Linked DNA regions of Homo sapiens: region 1 is linked to region 2. Evidence: fine-mapped QTL for protein levels in blood plasma. A gene starts in region 2. The other region holds a variant in brackets. All regions are shown on one strand. Distances are from middle to middle.

Region 1 (7,110 bases), 16 kb after region 2:
GTATACCAGGTATTATCCTAGTATACAGTAAGTCACCTTACTATATATATCCTAGTATACATATATATGTGTATATATATACATATATATGTATATCCTAGTATATATGTATATATATATATACACATATATCCTAGTATATATATACACACATATCCTAGTATATATGTATATATATATCCTAGTGTGTGTGTATATATATATATATATATCCTAGTGTGTGTGTGTGTGTATATATATATATATATCTCCTAGTATACAGTAACACACCTAGTGTGTTACCTGCAGCATCTCACTTAATTCTTAACAGCAACCCTGGGAAGTAGATGTTGTTTCATTTTTACAGGTAAAGGAAATGAGGCTTGATAAGATTAAATGACTTTTCCAAACATCACACAGTCTGGTAAGTGGGCGAGCTGGTGTTTGAAGCAGTCTATTGACCTGCAGAATTCATATACTTAACTATTATTGATTTCATTCAGTAGTGTGCATGAAACAAAGGTTTGATGAATGAGAAAATGCTTTACTAATAGCTACTTTATTTTCAAGATCGGGGGTTGGGGGGGGTGTCTCACTATGTTGCCTAGGCTGGTTTTGAACTCCTGGATTCAAGCGATCCTCATGCCTCACAGCCTCCTGAATAGCTGGGACTACAGGCATGCACCACTGTGCCTGGCTACTAATAGCTATTTTAAATGTGTAAAAGTTAAGTAACCTGAGACTAGGAGAAATGCCTCTTGTTCAAATCTTTTTATCATTTAGGTTGGATTTTGATTGAAAAGTAAATGATGATTAGTTAAAGGTGTAGTAGTCCCTCATTACACTCAGGGGGTATCATTCTAAGATCTCCCGTAGATGCCTAAAACTGCAGTTACTACTAAACCCTATACAGGAAATGCTATGTTTTTTTTTTTTTTTTGATCTGATAACTGACATGGCTACTAAGTGACTAACGGATGGATAGTGTAGACAACGTTGATATACTGGACAAAGGGATGATTCATGTTCCTGGTTGTGCAGAGCGGGACAGCAAGAGATTTAATCATGCTACTCAGAATGGCGTACATTTTAAAACCTATGAATTGATTACTTTTGGAATTCTCCATTGAATATTTTCAGAGCTCAATTGACCATGGGTAACTGAAACCAGGGAAAGCAAAAACCGTGGATAAGGGGAGACTAAAGTCAACATTTGCTGTTATTTTAAGACAATTTCAGGTCAAAATGAACTTGGGAAGCATTGGCAATTAGGCCATTCTAGTAATTCCCAGAACTGAAATGCGTGTTAAAATATTTTGAAGATATAGAGTGTAGAGATTTTATTTTATTTTATTATTTTGAGCTGGAGTCTCGCTCTGTCGCCCAGGCTGGAGTGCAGTGGCCTGATCTCGGCTTACTGCAACCTCCGCCTCCCAGGTTCAAGCAATTCTCCTGCCTCAGCCTCCTGAGTAACTGAGATTACAGGTGCGTGCCACCACGCCCGGCTAATCTTTGTATTTTTAGTAGAGACAGGGTTTCTCCATGTTGGCCAGGATGGTCTCGAAATCCTGACCTCACGATCCACCCACCTCAGCCTCCCAAAGTGCTGGGATTACAGGCGTGAGCCACCGCACGTGGTCGAGATTTTAATTTTGTTAGGGATATAATTCTCTTCTTTCTCCCCCTGCCCGTTGAGATTGAGTTAATGTGGTATTTGTAGTAGCTTAGCTCTTTGCAGATAGTGTTTCATTCTGACCCCAGAAACAGGTAGATGGGCTTTAGTTGCCTAGACCTGGGGATTAATAACTCATTTGGACTTAAGGATGTCAAAAGATCCTATTCGAAAGAACCAGAAGTAAATAAGCTCACGTAAAATTTGGGAGGTATTGCAGAATGAGACTTGGAAATCAAATCCTAGTGTTCTTTTTACTAATCTCTTAGTTTGAGAGTATAACTAAAGCAAATGGTTATTGGCTATCTTATCAGTTTATCTTTGTGCCCTGTTTTGCCTTTCAGAGCTAGTATAAGATATGCCCCTCACTTTCAAGTAGCCTAAGAATGAGCTGGGGAGACAAAGCTAAATGCTATTCCCGAGTTACATGGAAAAATTGGAAAACATTGAGCTCAGTCTGATTTTGTTGTTGTTGTTTGCGTTTTTGTTTGAGGGAGTAGAGGGTTCATAAATCTCTTCTGACAGTGTGAGGAAAACTTTAGACTCCCTCTCAAAAAAGAAAAAGTACACAGTAAACTTTGCATATGGAACATAGTCCCTGAACCCATATGTAGATCCCTGTGGTTAAGAGTGCCTGATTTAGGTCGAGAATGGTAGCTCATGCCTGTAATCCCAGCACTTTGGGTGGCCGAGGCAGGCTGATCACTTGAGCCAGGGAGTTCAAGACTAGCCTGGGCAACATATTAAGACTTTGTCTCTACAAAAAAAAAAAAAAAAAAAAAGCCAGGTGTGGTGGCGTGTGCCTGTGGTCCCAGCTACCTGGGTGGCTAGGGTGGAGGATCGCTTGAGCCCAGGAGGTTGAGGCTCCAGTGAGCTGTGATCCCACCACTACACTCAGCCTGGGTGACAGAGAGAGAGAGACCCTGTCTCAAAAAAAAAAGAAAAGAAAAAGAAAAGACTGGCTGATTTAAAAGTGTTCCCGTGTTCCCACAAGTGGTCCTGATTAGGAGGAGTGATAAAGGAAGGCTCAGTGTGTGTTAGAGTAGTGAGAAAGCTTGGTAGAGAAGTAGGACCTGAGCTGAAACTCAGCTAATGGTAGAATTTGAGTAAGCGGAGGATTTTGAGCAGGATGTTTCCAGCAGGGGGAAGCATAGCATATGCGGCAGTAATTGGAGAGCTGCCTGATTAAATCAGGCTGTGTGTGTAGCAGAAGGAAAATAAAGTTGGCTAAATGAAGTGGGCCTAAATTATAGGGGGCCTTGGAAGCCAAGGAAAGACATTTAGCTTGATGGGGCAGGCACTGGGGAATCATTTTAGGTTTTTAAAGCAGGAGAATGATATAACAAAAGCAGAGACAGTAGCTTATAAAGAATATTCTGCAGGATTAGTTGAGAAGTGAGGAGGCTACAAGCAGAGATGCTGGCTTAAGAAGCTGTTATAGTAATCAAGGGCTGATGTAATAAATGCCTGGACTACAGGGGCATCAGTTGTTAGCAGTTATTAGGAGGAGGTGTTTAATCTGACATATTTGGATAGAAAAACTATGGACCCTGAAATGTTAACACTTCTCTCTTTCCCCTTTTATTTAAAACAAAGGGAGGATTACTTTTTAAATTACTACCTTCTATATAATAATATTTGAAACTATTTGGAATGTTAAATGGCTTCCTGAAATGGACTATTAATAATTGTTTTTGATATAGTTCAGTGTTTCAAGAATACTAATTTATGGCTGGGCGCAGTGGCTCACACCTGTAATCCCAGCACTTTGGGAGGCTGAGGCTGGTGGATCATTGGAGGTCAGGAGATTGAGACCAGCCTGGCCAACATGGTGAAACCCTGTCTCTACTAAAAATACAAAAATTAGCCGGGTGGTAGTGGTGCGTGCCTGTAATCCCAGCTACTCAGGAGGCTAAAGCAGGAGAATCGCTTTAACCTGGGAGGCGGAGGTTGCGGTGAGCCAAGATTACGCCACTGCACTCTAGCCTGGGCAACAGAGGGAGACCCTTCCTTACCCACCCCCAACAACAACAAAAAAAACTAATTTAGGCCAGGTGCAGTGACTCAACGCCTGTAATCCCAACACTTTGGAAGGCCAGGCAGATCGCTTGAGCTCAGGAGTGTGAGACTAGCCTGGGCAACATAGCGACATTCTGTCTCAAAAAATAAAAATAAAAAACTACTAATTTATTTTTAGGCATCTGATAACTGAAGTAACATTGAAGCTGCTTTTTTCTTTTTTAAATTTTTTTCGTGATTAAAATATAGAAATGTACTGGCCAGGTGTGGTGGCTCGTGCCTGTAATCCCAGCATTTTGGGAGGCCAAGGCAGGCAGATCACCTGAGGTCAGAAGTTCGAGACCAACATGGTGAAACCCCATCTCTACTAAAAATACGAAAATTAGCTGGGCGTGGTGGCGTGCACCTGTAATTCCAGCTACTTGGGAGGTTGAGGCATGAGAATCGTTTGAACCTAGGAGGTGGAGGTTGCAGTGAGCTCATATCATGCCACTGCACTCCAACCTGGGCAACAGAGCAAGACTCCATCTCAAAAAAAAATTATATATATATAAGTTACGTATATAATAAGGGTTTTTTAAAAGGCTCTACATATACATATATATATATAAAGATTATATATCTATAAAGATTATATATGTATACAGAGAATAATATAGCAGACCCATATGTACCCATTATCCAGAATTAATAAATGCTGTTTTTTTAATGTTTGTGTTACTTTTTTGATTAAAAAGATAAAACGTTGACAATACAGTTGATATTTCCTTTGTCTTCATTCCCCAGACCCATTTTCCTTCTTGCCTGCTAAGAGGCAAACACTTTCACAAATTTGGGGTATAACCTTCCTGTCTTTATGTTTGTCTTTTACTATATAAGTACGTGTTCATAAACAATACATAGTTTAAAAAAAGCTATTCATAGTATAACTCCAATATGCCTGCAAGTTGTTTTTTTGCTGATTTGCTTTTGAAGTCCATCTATATACAGCCAGTCACGTATCTATTCATTTTTGTTAACGGTGAGAAGCAATTCTGGGAAAAATGTTCTAGTTCATTGGTTTTTTGTTTTGTTTTGTTTTTTAATTCCTATGGCCATTAGGGGGTGCCAAGGCAGCATTATATGGCTGCTTGCTACATGATGGAGAGGCACAGAAGGCAGCCTATATTAAGGACCTTGGATACTTTCCTTTCTTGCTACTTCTCCAAAAGAAGCCAAACCACTTGGGTGATCATCGTCTTTTGAAGTTTCACTATACACAGGCTAATAAAAACTATATGAAATGGCTGTAACTTACTGCTTTCATACTCTGAAGATTCCCTGAAATGGAATCATCTTTAAATGTAATCCAGGAAGCGGTTCTATAAGCTCATTGGAGTTAATATAACTTACTTGGGACTAGTAAAACAAAAATAAGGATTTACTATACAAATGTATGATTAATCCATCTCTCTTGCTTCTTTAGTTATAGTCACTAAGTCCTGATGATTCTACCATAGATAAGTGTTTTCAGTTTGGCTTCTTTGCTCTCTTTCTACTGCCCCACACCATCTTAGTTTAGGCAACCCTCCCTTACCCTTCACCTTAACCAGACCATCACCCTCTGGTTTCCCTCTTAAGTGGCTTCCCTGAAAAGTTTTTCCCCCTGCTTATCCCCTACAAATTTGCTATCTTCCTTAAAATAAATTATATATGTGTTATTTTCTGCTTTAAAAACTGAGGCTAGCCCTCGACTGCTAAAAAGAAAAGCCCAAACAGGCCTTAGATCATAGAAGATGCTTCAAAGTATGATCACCTGCAACTTGTCTTTCCTTCTTAACCCCCATTTCTTTTCCTTTTTTCTTTCTTTTTCTTTTTTTCTTGAGACAGAGTTTTGCTCTTGTCATCCAGGCTGTAGTGCAGTGGGCGATCTTGGCTCACTGCAACCTCCGCCTCCCGGGTTCAAGCAATTCTCCTGCCTTAGCCTCCCAAGTAACTGGGATTACAGGCACCTGCCACCATGCCCAGCTAATTATTATCTTTTTAGTAGAGACGAGGTTTCACCATGTTGGTCAGGCTGGTCTCAAACTCCTGACCTCAGGTGATCCACCCACCTCGGCCTCCCAAAGTGCTGGGATTACAGGCATGGGCCACTGTGCCCAGCCCCTAACCCCCATTTCTTCTTCCCCCTTACTCCTTATGTTTTAGCCACAGTGAACTAGTCATGCCCTTAAGCATGCTATATCCTTTGTCACTTTGTGCCTGGGGTAGGGCAGGCAGAGAGAAGAAGAAAGCCTATACAAATATATTTATATTATCACTTTTCTCCTACCTTCTTGGAAATAGCCATTGTTAATCTTGTTTTATAGGAATTCTTACTGTTGATGAACTTTTGGCCATCAGAATTCCATTGAATGACCTTTTTAGATGCAATAGTTTATCAACTTTGGAAAAGAATGATGTTGTCCAACACTACTGGGATGTTCTTGTACAAGCTTTTGTCCAAAATGGCACAGTGAGCACAAATGGTGAGTAAAGTATATATTTCTCTACTTGGATCCTAATTTAAGAGTAGAGTATACCAGGTAGCTTTCATTGAAGTCATTATCTGAAAGCATTTATATATTAAGGTTTATTCATAGCTTCTACTAGGCTATAAAGTTTTTGTAAATAATAGCAATTCTTATTTTTGTGTATCTTACAATTTAAAGTTTTTGATGTACATGTTGTGGAATGGTATTTTAAAAGACACTACCTATACTGTTCTCAGCTGATAAAACCTAATCATTGTTTGAACAGATCCTCAGATAGCTTGATTATCAGCTTTTTTAGCGGTTCCAAGACCAAAGCTTAGAAATCAGATTCATATTCTAATCTTGAATTTTTAAAGTTGATTTTATAATTTTTATATAGCTTTATGGAAAGGTAATAATTTCTCATTCACCAGTTCTGGAAAACTATGAACACTTCCCAAGAAGAGGTTGAAATGCCTATGATTTGCCATAGGGCTAATGCAAATAAATGGTTCATTTGTATTTAAGTCCTTTGATGATTTCTAAGCTTTTTTCTAGTAAACAGTATCCTTCCTTATGGTGATTGTATGTGGGAATAAAGAACCAAAAAATTTAAGACTTAACTCTCTGAATTTCGTATCAGAGGCAGGCAAAGTTCTTTGGGAATAAAAAGATTTAAGGGTCTGAAAAAGACGAGTATGTGGCCAT[G/T]TGGGAGCAGATAAAGCATAGGGATGTGTCCTGAGTTTGCTGTGTCATAACTCATGTAGATATTCTGTATATGAAGCAGCAGTTTAAGAACCTCTGCCTAATTTAGTTTCAAATATACTAACAAGATATTCTCTTCCCCTAATATAACCCTTTTGGACTTCTATTATGAGAATTTTTTTTGGTTTTCCCTGGCCTTATGAATTAAGAAAATGTCCGCTTTGGTTTCTTTTGTCCCTTTTC
Region 2 (4,351 bases):
ATGTCCTTTGCAGGGACATGGATGAAGCTGGAAGCCATCATCCTTAGCAAACTAACACAGGAACAGAAAACAAAACACTGCATGTTCTCACTCATAAGTGGGAGTTGAACAATGAGAACACATGGACACAGGGAGGGGAACAACACACACGGGGGCCTGTCAAGGGGTGGGGGCCAAGGGGAGGGAGAGCATTAGGAGAAATACCTAATGCATGTGGGGCTTAAAACCTAGATGACGGGTTGATAGGTGCAGTAAACCACCATGGCACATGTATACCTATGTAACAAAGCTGCACATTCTGCACATGTATCCCAGAACTTAAAGTAAAATTAAAAAAAAAAAAAAAAAAGAAAGAAAAAGAAAAAGAAAATGCCGTCCGCGCATATCTCTCAGGAGCATAGGAAGGGCTGTGAACCAAAAAGCCAGGGCGTGGTCGCCCCGCCCACCGGCCGCTACATCACCACCCCTCTCGCCGCTTTCAAGCGCGGAGATTGGCTGTAAGCAAGAAAGAGCCCCGCCCCTAGTCTTATGACTCGCACTGAAGCGCCGATTCCTGGCTTTTGCAAGGCTGTGGTCGGTGGTCATCAGTGCTCTTGACCCAGGTCCAGCGAGCCTTTTCCCTGGTGTTGCAGCTGTTGTTGTACCGCCGCCGTCGCCGCCGTCGCCGCCTGCTCTGCGGGGTCATGGTGTGCTTCCGCCTCTTCCCGGTTCCGGGCTCAGGGCTCGTTCTGGTCTGCCTAGTCCTGGGTGAGTTGTCGGGCCCTCCCGATTAGTCTGTCCGCCTGGGCCCGGGGCACCAGTTCAAAGCTACAACCTGAAAGACTGGTCCGAGGGGGAGGGGGTTGAGAGGCTCAGCAGCTAACACTGGGCGGCGGCGGTTGGCCCGGGGAGGCAAGCGGTGACCTAGAGAAGGCCTGACCGACGGATGGCGGGGAAGAAGGGCCCAGGAGAGTAAGAAGGGGCCGGTAACGGGGGGTGGACGCCGAGGGAGTAGGCTGGGAGGAGTGAAGCGTGGAGAGGGTCAGCGTGGAAAGAGTAACTTGGGGAAAACACTGAGGAGTGAGCGTAGGAGGGTGGTACATGCAGATTTTGGGCGCCAGAGACAATTAGGAGAGTCTTGGTTTGCTGAGATCAGGGAAGAGTTTTGAAGATGGTGGAAAAACTATGGGGTGAGATAGGAAATTAAGAGAGAAGACCATGCCTGCCTGGAGTAGCTTGGGAGAAGTGTGTGGGTGGGGGACAGATGGGACAGATAGGACAGTAGAGCCTGAGGGGCAGGGGCAGTGACAGGGTTGGGCATTTTGAAGGTTGGAATTTGAGACTGTGAAGAAAGGATGATTCAAGAGATTAGGAGTGATGCTGGGTTTGAGTTTGGTAGTCATAGTTTTAAGGGCGAAGGAACCTAAGGTAGCTGGGGCAATTTCCAGGAAAGAAAACTTGGACCCAACCTCTGGAGACTAAGGGGTTCAGGGGGAACTTTGATGGGGAGTGCACATCTGACTTGGAGGTATTGAGGATGTCGATTTTCTCCCAGTTTTGCTACTTCCTCCCAGCCAGACGCTGACAAAAAAATCCCCAGACGTTTCAGTTAGGAGGGCCTCCCAGATGTGAGGTTTTGGGGGTGGAGTATTTGAGTTTGGTAGACTACCTCTTTGCCTTCAGAGTTTCTTCTTTTCTTTCTTCCCCATCACACAGCTAGCCTATTACCTCATATTTTGGGGGTGCAGGGAGCAGGTAGACAAACTTGCTAAGGATTGGGTTGTTACCAGGGCCTAAGAATGGCTGGATGGGGCCGGGCGTGGTGGCTCATGCCTGTAATCCCAGCACTTTGGGAGGCCGAGGTGGGTGTATCACCTGAGGTCAGGAATTCAAGACCAGCCTGGCCAACATGGTGAAACCCCGTCTCTACTAAAAATACAAAAATTAGCCGGGCGTCGTGGCACATGCCTGTAATCCCAGCTGCTTGGGCGGCTGAGGCAGGAGAATCGCTTGAACCCAGAAGGCGGAGGTTGCAGTGAGCCAAGATTGCGCCATTGCACTCCAGCCTGGGCGACAAGAGTGAAACTCTGTCTCAAAAAATAAAAATAAATAAATCAATAAATAAATGGCTGGGTGAATGTTCGCTGATTGTGTTGTGCCCTAATAGGCAGTGGGTCGCTAACAACTTTAATGCCTAAAAGTGAACTTTGACTAAAGTGTCTCTTCCTGACTTTGATTCATGCTGTGCTTGTTGCTACCCACCTGCTCTTGCTATTTGTGACTTAATAAAATAACATAAAGAACAGACCCAGATGGGAGTGGGGAAGAAATAGACATATTAGGGGTCTGAGAAAGCAGTGAGAGGTATACATTTTGTAATTCACATTTCAGTAGAATGAAATCAACACCCTGGAATAGTGATTCTCAACCAGGGGACATTTGGCAACATCTGGAGACATTTTTGGTTGTAACAACTGGGGGATTGCTTTTAGCATCTAGTGGGTAGAGGCCAAGGATGCTGCTAAACATCCTAACTAAGCACAGGGCAGCCCCTGACAACAAAGAATCATCTCCCTGAAAATGTCAATGGTGCCAACATTGATAAATCCTGCTCGAAAACCATAGTATTGGAAGGGTTCTTGATTATCTAATTCAGTGACTCTCGAGGACCTTTTCATGCGTCTGTGAAATCAAAACTTCGGAATAAGGTTAAGAAGGTATTTGTCCTTTTCTGCTGGGCACAGTGGCTCACGCCTGTAATCCCAGCACTTTGGGAGGCTGAGGCGGGCGGATCACCTGAGATCAGGAGTTCAAGACCAGCCTGACCAACATGGTGAAACCCAGTCTCTACTAAAAATAGAAAAATTAGCCGGTGTCGTGGCACATGCCTGTAATCCCAGCTACTTGGGAGGCCGAGGCAGGAGAATCGCTTGAACCCAGGAGGCGGAGGTTGCGGTGAGCCAAGATTGCGCCACTGCATTCCAGCCTGGGCAACATGAGCGAAACTCTGTCTCAAAAAAAAAAAAAAAAAAAGAAGTTATTTGTCCTTTGTCCTTTTCACTCTCATCCTCTCACCAGTGTACAGCAGAGTTTTCCAGTGGCTACGTAACATGTGATGACCTCACCACTCTGATGTTCTTATATTTTATTCATTTCTCAGTTTTAATTTCTAATACTGTAAATACCAATACATATGACTCACATAAACCTCTGTGAAGTCCTCAGTGGATAAGAAAGTAAAGGGGTCCTGACACCAAAACTTTGGGAATCCCTGATGTAGTCCAACTGTTCACAGCGCGCAGGAAACTCTTCTGTAGCACTTCTGAAAGGCGGCCTTGAGGCAGGCTTTGCTTGAATACTTAATTGGAAGCCTTAACTGTACCTTGGAGCACTTACTGAGGGCCAACTGACCCTAAGAAAGGATTGTTTACAATGGAAAGTACCTTATCAGTGACTAGAACACATCTGACCAAGGCATCTGTTAATCAGTAGTTCCCTGCCAATTGAATCTGTGCACAAATACAACACTGTTATTGTTTTGGGAAAGTGAAAAAAATAATAGTTGTCCTACTTGTTGGCTTTCATGTCATTAAATTTTTTTTTGTTTTTTAATGAAAGCTTTTTTGTTTTGTTTTTACAAAAGCAATGCTTACTCACTGCAGAAAATAAACATGCAAAAAGAAGCACATAAAAGAACCCATCAGCTCATCTGCTAGTTTGCCATTTATTGATCAGGACTAACTAGATTCTTCCTCTTGGAAAATTTCCAAGATTGATTCCCTCCGCCTCCAAGTTCAGAGCAGGATTTGGAAAAGTAAATATTAATAATGTACCTAGATCTGATTTTTAAGAGGTTCCAGGATGAAATAGAAACCATTTTTCTATACAGCTGCATTTTCTGATGGCTCTTGGTTCAGTGTGGAGCCCAAAGTCCTCCCATATAGCTTTTTCTGTCAAGAATTTAGCAGTTGCTTGGTGGGTTTTGCACAAGTTACTTTTCTATATCAAAATGGATACCAATAATAGGTTTTTGAAAACTTAATAAATATTTGTAAAGTACCTAATATGTAGCTAAATCAATAAATATTTGTAAAGTACCTACTATGTAGCTAGAACTGTGCCTGGGTACTGTACGGAGTGCCAATGAAGGAGGACCTGTCCTAAATTTATAGTCTTATTAGCATTAGTGCTCTAGCTGTGCCAGTTTGACTTTGTAACTTTATAACTCTATCCCAGCTTCACCCATAACCTTTTAAAAACAGCAGCTTTAGAATAAGTACAGAAAAGGATTCTTAGAGGCTATATATTGGTCTTTTTCATAGAGATTAAATTATGCTGGTGTTTATTTGGATGAATTGTAACTGACCAGACA

Which allele goes with the higher level. Positions count from the first base shown, and alleles are read on the strand shown. Strength reflects both the effect of a copy and how common the allele is.
In carriers of allele T in region 1, the plasma level of the protein whose gene starts at base 557 in region 2 tends to be higher than with G alone (weak association).

The links. A credible set is the group of variants that fine-mapping cannot tell apart. PIP is the chance, under the fine-mapping model, that this variant and not a neighbour inherited with it causes the effect. Protein levels are from antibody-based Olink assays in UK Biobank. Linkage for the fine-mapping came from a reference panel and not from the study's own genotypes, which makes the PIPs less certain.
Region 1: its variant is the best candidate, but not a certain one, in a credible set for the plasma level of the LAMP2 protein (UK Biobank, PIP 0.73).

The regions. Positions count from the first base shown.
Region 1 is chrX:120,448,037-120,455,146 of GRCh38, reverse strand. It overlaps LAMP2 (lysosomal associated membrane protein 2), which reads left to right. Exons shown (of 9, transcript NM_002294.3): 4 at 6,019-6,177. Among named protein-coding and RNA genes, the nearest start is that of LAMP2, 18 kb to the left of the region's middle. The variant G/T (reference allele first, on the strand shown) is at 6,871.
Region 2 is chrX:120,465,502-120,469,852 of GRCh38, reverse strand. LAMP2 (lysosomal associated membrane protein 2) reads left to right here and starts at 557. Exons shown (of 9, transcript NM_002294.3): 1 at 557-747. The coding sequence starts at 684. RefSeq lists a silencer at 355-619.